Linked DNA regions of Homo sapiens. The protein of the gene in region 1 interacts with the protein of each later gene in a biochemical or structural test. Each region holds a gene or a part of one and is shown in the gene's direction. Other genes may lie near its edges. The genes, in order: ABCA2, DLG2 and CARD11.

The links.
Region 2: the proteins of ABCA2 (region 1) and DLG2 interact in a test that uses a peptide from one of them, tested with the Homo sapiens proteins (one large-scale study listed by IntAct).
Region 3: the proteins of ABCA2 (region 1) and CARD11 interact in a test that uses a peptide from one of them, tested with the Homo sapiens proteins (one large-scale study listed by IntAct).

Annotation. Positions count from the first base shown.
Region 1 is NC_000009.12:137,011,191-137,014,840, reverse strand, and holds part of ABCA2 (ATP-binding cassette sub-family A member 2), read left to right. Parts: intron 1-30; coding exon 31-151; intron 152-436; coding exon 437-673; intron 674-802; coding exon 803-1,009; intron 1,010-1,277; coding exon 1,278-1,380; intron 1,381-1,522; coding exon 1,523-1,839; intron 1,840-1,915; coding exon 1,916-2,129; intron 2,130-2,250; coding exon 2,251-2,356; intron 2,357-2,464; coding exon 2,465-2,576; intron 2,577-2,678; coding exon 2,679-2,739; intron 2,740-2,822; coding exon 2,823-2,997; intron 2,998-3,091; coding exon 3,092-3,207; intron 3,208-3,286; coding exon 3,287-3,434; intron 3,435-3,531; coding exon 3,532-3,650. UniProt on the Homo sapiens protein: Probable lipid transporter that modulates cholesterol sequestration in the late endosome/lysosome by regulating the intracellular sphingolipid metabolism, in turn participates in cholesterol homeostasis.
Region 2 is NC_000011.10:83,464,753-83,468,402, reverse strand, and holds part of DLG2 (disks large homolog 2), read left to right. Parts: intron 1-1,585; coding exon 1,586-1,695; intron 1,696-3,650. UniProt on the Homo sapiens protein: Required for perception of chronic pain through NMDA receptor signaling. Regulates surface expression of NMDA receptors in dorsal horn neurons of the spinal cord.
Region 3 is NC_000007.14:2,942,740-2,946,389, reverse strand, and holds part of CARD11 (caspase recruitment domain-containing protein 11), read left to right. Parts: intron 1-433; coding exon 434-571; intron 572-1,852; coding exon 1,853-2,178; exon of another isoform or gene 2,179-2,355; intron 2,356-3,650. UniProt on the Homo sapiens protein: Adapter protein that plays a key role in adaptive immune response by transducing the activation of NF-kappa-B downstream of T-cell receptor (TCR) and B-cell receptor (BCR) engagement.

The DNA of each region.
Region 1 (3,650 bases):
CCGCAGCCTCCCCCTCCACCGCCCCTGCAGCACCTGGAGCGCAGCCTGGATGCACTGCACCTCAGCAGCTTCGGGCTGATGGACACGACCCTGGAGGAAGTGTTCCTCAAGGTGTCGGAGGAGGATCAGTCGCTGGAGAACAGTGAGGCCGGTGAGGGGCCTGGACCACTTGCTCAGCCCACCCCACCCACAAGGCCCCAGCTCGGGCCTGCGCTGTCACTCCTGCCTGGTGTCTGGGGGCGCCACCCTGGTCCTGGGTGGAAGCCAGGGGACGCCCCGGGGTTAGCCTGCGGTCCTAGGTGGGTGGTCCTGGTGGCCAGAGGTCCCGGACAGGTGTATGAGCCTGGGAACTGGGGTCAAGACCGGGGATGGGGGTCCTGGGCAGGCCTAGGGGCCAGTAGCCCTGAGTGTCCCCTCGGCCCTTCCACTGCGGCAGATGTGAAGGAGTCCAGGAAGGATGTGCTCCCTGGGGCGGAGGGCCCGGCGTCTGGGGAGGGTCACGCTGGCAATCTGGCCCGGTGCTCGGAGCTGACCCAGTCGCAGGCATCGCTGCAGTCGGCGTCATCTGTGGGCTCTGCCCGTGGCGACGAGGGAGCTGGCTACACCGACGTCTATGGCGACTACCGCCCCCTCTTTGATAACCCACAGGACCCAGACAATGTCAGCCTGCAAGGTGGGGGTGGCAGGGTGAGGCTGGGACAGCAAGGGAGGGGGAGCAGGGTTGCGGGGGAGCGGCATGAGGGCAGCCAGTAGGGAGAGGGTAGCGTGCAACCACCTGCTCAGCCTCTACCTCTCTGCACAGAGGTGGAGGCAGAGGCCCTGTCGAGGGTCGGCCAGGGCAGCCGCAAGCTGGACGGCGGGTGGCTGAAGGTGCGCCAGTTCCACGGGCTGCTGGTCAAACGCTTCCACTGCGCCCGCCGCAACTCCAAGGCACTCTTCTCCCAGATCTTGCTGCCAGCCTTCTTCGTCTGCGTGGCCATGACCGTGGCCCTGTCCGTCCCGGAGATTGGTAGGCCACCGGCTGGACAGGGGTGCTGGGCTTGCCTCCCCCCACCGCCCGCTGGGAGCCCTGATGATGCCCACTCCTGAGCTTCCTGACTCTGGGCCTCACCCCACACCTGAGGCTGGGCACGCACCGGGGTTCATCCGGGAGTCCTGTCTCCTCGGGTCCCAGACCCCAGGCGTGGATCCCTTGGGGTTGGGGGAAGGGGACCGAGGCTTGGGGGCCGCTGGCCAGAGGGCAGAACCTGCTCAGGCCTCCCTGCTCGCCCTGCCAGGTGATCTGCCCCCGCTGGTCCTGTCACCTTCCCAGTACCACAACTACACCCAGCCCCGTGGCAATTTCATCCCCTACGCCAACGAGGAGCGCCGCGAGTACCGGTGAGGCCTCCAGCGGGGGCAGCCTTGGTGGGTGGGGCGAGTGAAGGGGCGGGGACAGCCTTGGTGGGCCAGGCGGGCGAGGGGGCGGGGCTGGCGAGGGGCGGAGACTGGCAGCCCCACCTCACACTGTCGGTGCCCGCAGGCTGCGGCTATCGCCCGACGCCAGCCCCCAGCAGCTCGTGAGCACGTTCCGGCTGCCGTCGGGGGTGGGTGCCACCTGCGTGCTCAAGTCTCCCGCCAACGGCTCGCTGGGGCCCACGTTGAACCTGAGCAGCGGGGAGTCGCGCCTGCTGGCGGCTCGGTTCTTCGACAGCATGTGTCTGGAGTCCTTCACACAGGGGCTGCCACTGTCCAATTTCGTGCCACCCCCACCCTCGCCCGCCCCATCTGACTCGCCAGCGTCCCCGGATGAGGACCTGCAGGCCTGGAACGTCTCCCTGCCGCCCACCGCTGGGCCAGGTAGTGGTTCAGGGGGCCTGCTGGGGGGGCAGGGGCAGTGAGGGGTCCTTCTCACCGCACCATGCTGTGCCCACAGAAATGTGGACGTCGGCACCCTCCCTGCCGCGCCTGGTACGGGAGCCCGTCCGCTGCACCTGCTCTGCGCAGGGCACCGGCTTCTCCTGCCCCAGCAGTGTGGGCGGGCACCCGCCCCAGATGCGGGTGGTCACAGGCGACATCCTGACCGACATCACCGGCCACAATGTCTCTGAGTACCTGCTCTTCACCTCCGACCGCTTCCGACTGCACCGGTGAGCTGGGTGGGGAGGCTGTGGGTGAGGGTGGCCGGCCACCAGCCACCTAGTCTCAACTCCTGCCCCTCTAGCCTCACTGCCTGCCTAGCCTCACCGCCCCTCCCACCTGCCTGCCCAGGTATGGGGCCATCACCTTTGGAAACGTCCTGAAGTCCATCCCAGCCTCATTTGGCACCAGGGCCCCACCCATGGTGCGGAAGATCGCGGTGCGCAGGGCTGCCCAGGTGAGCGAGGCTGCGGGCCTGGGCCCCGCTGTGTGTAGCGCCGCCCGAGGTCTGCAGGGACCCAGGTCTGAGGTCCTGGGGCCTTTCTGTGTCCTCTTCCTTCTGCAGGTTTTCTACAACAACAAGGGCTATCACAGCATGCCCACCTACCTCAACAGCCTCAACAACGCCATCCTGCGTGCCAACCTGCCCAAGAGCAAGGGCAACCCGGCGGCTTACGGTGAGCTGACATAGGCAGGGCGGGGCGGGGCGGGGAGGAGCTGGGGCCGGGGCGGGGAGGAGCTGGGGCCTGAAGCTGCCGCCCCCGCCCCGCCGTGTGCAGGCATCACCGTCACCAACCACCCCATGAATAAGACCAGCGCCAGCCTCTCCCTGGATTACCTGTAAGTGTGGCCAGTGGGGGATGAGGTGGGGCAGGTGGGCACTGCAGCCCCGGCCGTGAGGACTGAGGGCTTCCTTGCCCCAGGCTGCAGGGCACGGATGTCGTCATCGCCATCTTCATCATCGTGGCCATGTCCTTCGTGCCGGCCAGCTTCGTTGTCTTCCTCGTGGCCGAGAAGTCCACCAAGGCCAAGCACCTGCAGTTTGTCAGCGGCTGCAACCCCATCATCTACTGGCTGGCGAACTACGTGTGGGACATGGTGCGCCCGGCGTGGCCATGGGGTGCCCCGGCCCTTCTCATCCCCCATCCCCGCCCTGCCCCGGGTCTCTCACCAGCCGCCCCCACCCCTGCAGCTCAACTACCTGGTCCCCGCTACCTGCTGTGTCATCATCCTGTTTGTGTTCGACCTGCCGGCCTACACGTCGCCCACCAACTTCCCTGCCGTCCTCTCCCTCTTCCTGCTCTATGGGTAAGCGGAAGCGGAGGGGGGAGCGGCCTCAGGTGGGACCGGGGCTGCCTGGTGACCACTGCCCGCCACCTGCCCGCAGGTGGTCCATCACGCCCATCATGTACCCGGCCTCCTTCTGGTTCGAGGTCCCCAGCTCCGCCTACGTGTTCCTCATTGTCATCAATCTCTTCATCGGCATCACCGCCACCGTGGCCACCTTCCTGCTACAGCTCTTCGAGCACGACAAGGTGGGGCGGTGACGACATGGTGGGGGTGGCGGACCCTGCGGAGGCTGTGCCCCTCACCCCGGCCACCCCTGTGCCCCTGACCCCGGCCACCCCGCAGGACCTGAAGGTTGTCAACAGTTACCTGAAAAGCTGCTTCCTCATTTTCCCCAACTACAACCTGGGCCACGGGCTCATGGAGATGGCCTACAACGAGTACATCAACGAGTACTACGCCAA
Region 2 (3,650 bases), on another chromosome or scaffold:
CCTATTTTCCTCTTTGTTCATGTTGTTAACTTGAAATGTTCTGACTGGTGAATAATCAACCAGCATTTATACATGTTATGTGGCTGCTGCACTTCACAGATAGAAAACTTGAAATCTATTACCTAAGTAATAACGGCTTGAACCATCTTAGTGGGTTTCTCAGATAAGAAGACTTCAAGTATTCACTGGACTGTATTCATTTTCATGTGAACATTATAGATGAGATTTTAGCCCTTATTATTGATTTAGTATTGTTCCTATCTGCATAAAGTGCCTTTTTTCTCTTCTTGCATAAAGTTATTCTAGCCTCAGGGTAATGAGGACATTTCTCTCCAGGAGGTAGAATATGATGTGGCAAATGTATCTGCATATCCAGAAATGCTTTATAAAGCAGCTGCTTGCTCTGAGCACTCATTGTGGTGGAAGCCAAGTTAAATGAGGTGTGCTATAATGTAATAGCATTTTTATTTGTTAACAAACAAGAAATTTACATACCTCATGCAAGCCTTTCTCTCTTGGCATTTAACCCGCATTTAATTTATATATATATATATATATATGTTTTAATTATATATTTTATATGTGTGTGTGTATATATATATATATATATATATATATATATATATATATACATATAGTTTTTATTTTTTTTGAGATGGCATTTCACTCTTATTGCCCAGGCTGGAATGCCATGGCACGGTCTCAGCTCACTGCAACCTCCACCTCCTGGGTTCAAGTGATTCTCCTGCCTCAGCCTCTCAAGTAGCTGGGATTACAGGTGCCCACCACCATGCCTGGTGAACTTTTTGGATTTTTAGCAGAGACAGGGTCTCACCATTTTGGTCAGGCTGGTCTCGAACTCCTGATCTCAGGTGATCCACCCGCCTCGGCCTCCTAGAGTGCTAGGATTACAGCCATGAGCCACTGCACCCAACCAACCATATGTTTAAGTTAACCATTTTTGTGTCTGCCCTCCACTAGACTGAGTACCTTGCAGACAGGATATGTACAAGTACTTGGAAAAATTCACATTATTCTCAATCTTCCACACCGAATGTTGGGCAGGGTGAGACAATGAGGTGTCTATTTTTTCCAACCAACAATTCTGTTAGTGCTCCAGACTTGGGTTTGCATGCTCCTAGCACTAAACTATTGGGCAAGTTAGTTAGTGTGAGTCTTCTGTAAAATGCAGCTGATAATACCTACCTCAGAGATTTGGGAATTTCTTCTGACAATTGTGTTCAGAGATGGTTTTTAAACTTCATGAGAACAGACTCAGTCACATAACATACGGCTGCATGTCATCTTTGTGTGTTACATCAGGTATTTAACTGAGAGAACATATGTAAAATGTCCAGTCCAGTAGCAGACACTTTGTAAGGGGCTAGTTAGTATTAGTTATTGTAAACACTCAATGATGACCCTATATATCGATTTTTATTTACTCTTTGCAGTGATCTTTTTCTGACTTTAGAAATCCAGCATCCCCTACCTTCCTCTAAAACCTACATACATTAGTTTCCTTTTGTTGGATTATGGCCATGCTTCCTATATTAACTTCATATTTTTCTTCTCTTTCTACCAGGGCAAACACTGTATACTTGATGTATCAGGAAATGCTATCAAGCGGTTACAAGTTGCCCAGCTCTATCCCATTGCCATCTTCATAAAACCCAGGTCTCTGGAACCTCTTATGTGAGTAGAGGGCATTGGAGGCCTTCATCCAACTGACTCCCTGTTCTGTATTATACTGAAAATTACTAACAGGATTTTGCTGGGAATGCTTACAAATGGGAAATGCCATTGTTGATTTTTCAGCATTCTCTTTTTTTGAAGATATATCAAAGTTCTTTTAAACAACTAGAAACATAATGTCAGTGATTTCTTTTTTTAACATCCCTCATTTTAACAATAATAGTAATTCCTTAAAACATCTTCAATAATGTTTCCTGATTTTTATTGTTTTACTTCACGGATTGTTTTCTTTGTTAGTTTTTGAGGTTTTGTTGTTGTTGTTTTGAGGATAGCTTGGCTTGATTTGGTTTTTTGGTTTGCTTTTGTTTTCCAAATGATAGGAAGCAATCATTTTTTAATTGTCTCATACTTCTGAGGCAGGTCTATAAGTAAATCTTTTTAAATGTGTAGATTTTTTATAGAGAGAGCAGACAACGTTTGAGACTTTTTTCATTGGCATTTTCCTTGGTTCTCTAATAGAATTCTGATGTTCCTTAATTAAAACTTTACATACATAGAACATCGTTCTTAATAGAGTTTTCTTAGTGGCGTGGCAGTAAAACATCTGTAACTTAAACCAGTAGCTTCATACCTGTGCACTCAGGGTTTTTTCTTTTTTTTTCCCCTCCAAAGGACTTGTGAAATAACTTCTTTCAAGAATCATTAAACAAAGTGGGCAGACATTCACGATCTGACTGTAAAGTCAGTATAGGCAACTCCCATTCACAAAGGTGAAGCTACAGTAGATAGAGGTAACCAGAAAAGGGGCTACCAGCAGGGACCTGAAAATTGATCAGGCAAGATTTGGTTCTTTACTTTGCCACTGATCAGTTAAGTAACCTTGGGCAAATTGCTTGACCTTTCTAAGATTTAGCTCCTCACCTCGAAACGAGGCATACTAATAAATACCTCATAGAGCTAGTATAAAGGTTAAATAACAAGATTAGGAATTTAGTAAAGCTGTTCATGTACTCTTTGGCATATGGTAAGTACTCAATAAATAATACCTATTATTATTGTAAAAGATATAAAATTACTTCATTATAAAGGAATAAAACTATTTTATCATTATAAAACACATAAACAGTACCTCTTCCATGACAGTGCAAGAGATAATGCCAATGTGTCTGTCATGAGGGCCTTGATCAAATTTTGCCTTCATCTGGGCCTCAAGACCATAGTGTTTGACAGGGTTCAGGAGTGAACCACAGAGTACTGGAAAATAATGTTTATGGAAGGACCGAAGAAACAGAAATTATTTAATCCCAGTGGTGAAAGCAATTGCTTACAGAGGATATTAACTGTTCTGTGTCTCCTCTGAAGACAAAGAAGCAAAGCAAACTGCAGCAGCTGGAGTGGCAGCCTGAGAGAATTAAGTTAAATACATAGTTGAGCTCTGGGGAAATAGCCAGAGATGTACCTTGAAAGCAGAATATAGTCCCATATATAAAAAATGGACAAGGATTCTTACCAGGATAAAAAAAGTAAGATCGGGAGGTCACTGACAGTACCTTCAGCCCCATGAATTTAGGTATTAAATTATAATATAAAGAGTTTTTCCCATGGCTGGCACATGGAAAAATATGTACTAATGATAAAATAATGATTCTTAATATTATCATCCCCAATAGCATGTATTAAATTTCTCCTTGTATAGGATACTATGTCGGGCATTGCACAAAGTGAATTAAGCAAGTACAAATTTCATGATGTAAAATTGATTTATAATCTGTCAAGAGCCTCATAAATATAAGTAATGCTAACATTAATGAGAAGAAAAATAGTCCTTACTTCCTGGGAACAGCCATCTTAAAGGCCTGTTTCAGAAATAGAAAAATAAATCTTCATATTGTAAACACTCAGTGGGATAAATGGCTTCCCAGGGGAATGAGGCCTGAGGGAACGACAGCAGTGGC
Region 3 (3,650 bases), on another chromosome or scaffold:
CTTCCTATGATTTTTCCTAGCCTCTCACCCAAAGATTTGTCTTCCTGCTCTCAATCCCAGAGAACCATATATTATTCCATAATTTTTATCGTGCTTCCAACCTCCTTCAGTCATAGAAGACCTGGTGCCTACGTGGTTCATTTTGGCCCTGGTCAGTTGGGAAACTCTTCAAAACTGGGGCGGCAATTCCATTTATCCTGGTTCTACCAGTTTATTAGAAACAGAAAACTAACGCTCACCAAATCCCTGCGGAGGGCCTGGCACCTTGATTTACGTCATCTGGGCTCCAAGATACAACTCAGAAGTGATAGAATGTGGGGAGACTGTCTTCTTAGAGTTGATTGAAGGACACAAGTCCAGGATGAGACCAGCCACAGAGACTTGCGTTCCATCAGATATGTATTCTCACAGAGTGATCTGGTCTTTCCCCTAGGCCGGCTGTTGGACATTCTACATACCAAGGGGCAAAGGGGCTATGTGGTCTTCTTGGAGAGCCTAGAATTTTATTACCCAGAACTGTACAAACTGGTGACTGGGAAAGAGCCCACTCGGAGATTCTCCACCATTGTGGGTAAGTGCTTTTGCCATTGGGAACATCTGGACTCTAAGAGGAGGGGCGTGTGTGTGTGTGTGTCTGTGTGTGTGTGTGTGTGTGTGTGTGTCCTCAGTAGTGGCATGGTTCTTAAGCTGTGAATCTATGACATATAGAACTGGGGTCTGTCAACCACTTATTTTGCTTGATGATGAAAGGTTAACAGGGGCAAAGGGAAGCAGGAACCAAGAGAAGTGGGTGTTCACGGACCATCCCCCATGAATGGCGCCAGGTGGAACACAAGTTCATTCTACCCCGTAGATCTTGTCCTTGCCTTGCCTGCATTCTTTCTAGTGTCTCATGGGCCAGAGCCCTTGAGCATCTTGCCTTCTTAATCTTCCTTTCTAAACATTCTTGAATCAGTCTTCTCGCCCGCCCCAACACTTCCCACAGTCCAGACTCCCACAACCCCATTAACTCTCCATATCCATTCCCGATCTGTTCCAGTGCTTTCTCCATTCTTCCTCCCCTATTTAAAACCCTTTGGTGGTTTTTCATTGCTTCTTTGTAAAGACCCAGGTCTTGGCCAGGCACAGTGGCTCATGCCTGAAATTCCAACACTTTTGGAGGCTGCAGCCATAGAATTGCTTGAGCCCAGGAGTTCCAGGCTGCAATAAGCTATGATCATGCCCCTGCACTCCAGCCTGGGTAATAGAGCGAGACCCTGTTTTAAAATATAAAAAAAGTCCCAGGTCTTTAATGCAGCCCACAAGGACCCTTCATGATCCAGTCCCTGCTGACACCACCAGCCTCGCCTTTCTCTTCTCTCTCTCTCCTTCGGCCACTTTGGTCTTCGTTCAGTTCCTGAAATATGCCAAGTTCCTCCCTCCTCCCCATATGGCCTTGGCAATGTTGTTCCCCTTTCCTAGAATGCCTTTTCCCACCCGAACTTAACATTTTACCTCAACCATCAGGAGCCTTCTCCAACCCCCTCTGCCCACAAGGCTGGATCTGGGCCCCTGCTACACACTCTCATAGCCCCATCTACCTTTACTTTGTGAAATCCTCACGGTCTGTAATTCTATTTGTGGTATCATTTGATTTTTTTAAATGTGTTTCTCTTATTACACCCTAAGCTCTCCCGGGGCCAAGGCTGTGAGTCTCGCTCACTCTGAATCCCCAGTGCCTCGTGGGCAGAGTGAGTAAAGAGCTTGGCACAACGTTGGTGAGTGAGTGAATGAATGGCACCTGCCCTGCGTCTGGAACCTCCTTTTTCCACTTCCCAGTCCTCAGGCCTGACTGGGTGCCCCCTCTCCACAGTGGAGGAAGGCCACGAGGGCCTCACGCACTTCCTGATGAACGAGGTCATCAAGCTGCAGCAGCAGATGAAGGCCAAGGACCTGCAACGCTGCGAGCTGCTGGCCAGGTTGCGGCAGCTGGAGGATGAGAAGAAGCAGATGACGCTGACGCGCGTGGAGCTGCTAACCTTCCAGGAGCGGTACTACAAGATGAAGGAAGAGCGGGACAGCTACAATGACGAGCTGGTCAAGGTGAAGGACGACAACTACAACTTAGCCATGCGCTACGCACAGCTCAGTGAGGAGAAGAACATGGCGGTCATGAGGAGCCGAGACCTCCAACTCGAGGTGAGGGGTGCCCAAGGGCTACTCCGCCAGGGTGACCCGGGGGAAACAAATGTCACCAGGGCTCAATTCTCCCATAAAGCAGGTGCAGGCACATGCACGTGGTCTGCCGGAGCTTCCTGCCAGCCAGGTGTGGGGGAATGGAGGACACAGGGCCTCTGGGAGTTCTAGGTCCACTATGCACCTGCACGTGTACCCATAGTGCTTAGCGCTACCGGGTAAGCGGCCTACATCCCCTGTGCGCATGGGCAGACATGCGCACAAGGACCGACCCAGTGCGCAGCTTTCCACCACCGGCTCAGTCCCAGATCCACCTTGCACATGCGCATGCAGACCCAGAATGGCTCACTCCGCAAATGAATTAAGGAGATTTACATCTTCTTTTTTCTTTTCTTTTATTTTCCTTTCCTTCTTTTCTTTCTTTCTTTTTCTTTTCTTTTTTTTTTTTTTTTTTTTTTTTTTTTTTGAGACAGGGTCTTCCACTGCCCAGGCTGCAGTGGTGTGATCATGGCTCACTGAAGCCTTGACCTCCTAGACTCAAGTGATCCTCCTGTCTCAGCCTCCAAAGTAGCTGGGACTACAGGTGCCCACCATCACGCCAGGCTATTCTTTCAATTTTTTTGTAGAAAAGGGGTCTCGCTATTTTGCCCAGGCTGATCTGCAACTCCTGGGCTCAAGTGATCTGCCTCCCTTGGCCTTACAAAGTGGTGGGATTACAGGTATGAGCCACTGCACCCGGCCTCGTTCATTCTTTCTGTTTATTGAGTTCCATCGGGTACCAGGCTTTTTGTTTTTGGGTTTTTTGGAGGAGTTTTTTGGACAGAGTCTCACTCTGTCACCCAGGCTGGAGTGCAGTGGTGTGATCACAGCTCACTGTAGCTTTGGCCTTGCAGGCTCAGGTGATCCTCCCACCTTAGCCTCCCAAGTAGCTGGGACTACAGGTACATGCTATGCCAGCTAATTTTTTTCTATTTTTATCCTACCCACCCCCCTTTTTCTATTTTTAGTAAAGACAGGGTTTCACCATGTTGCCCAGGCTGGTCTTGAACTCCTGGGCTCGGGCAATCTGCACACTTGGCCTCCCAAAGTGCTGGGATTACAGGTATAAGCCACCACACCTGGCCCCCAGGCTCTTTTCCAGGGATACATAGCTGAAGACTAAAACCCTTCTGTCGTGGAACTAACATTGTAATCAGAAAACAAATGCATAGATACTTGGTAGAAATGAGTGCTATCAAGAAGAGAAGACAGGGCGTGAGGACAGAACATGAGGATTGCTACTTTAACTAGGGTGTCCAGGAAAGGTCTCTGAGAAGGAGACACATGAAGAGAGATCTGAAGGGATGAAAGGAGCCAACCATGCAAGTCTCAGGGGAAAGCACTCGCAAAGCCCATAAGTAGGGGGCATTTTGTTTTTGTTTTTGTTTTTGTTTTTGAAGAAACAGCAGGAAGGCTGAGCTTGATGGCCCACACCT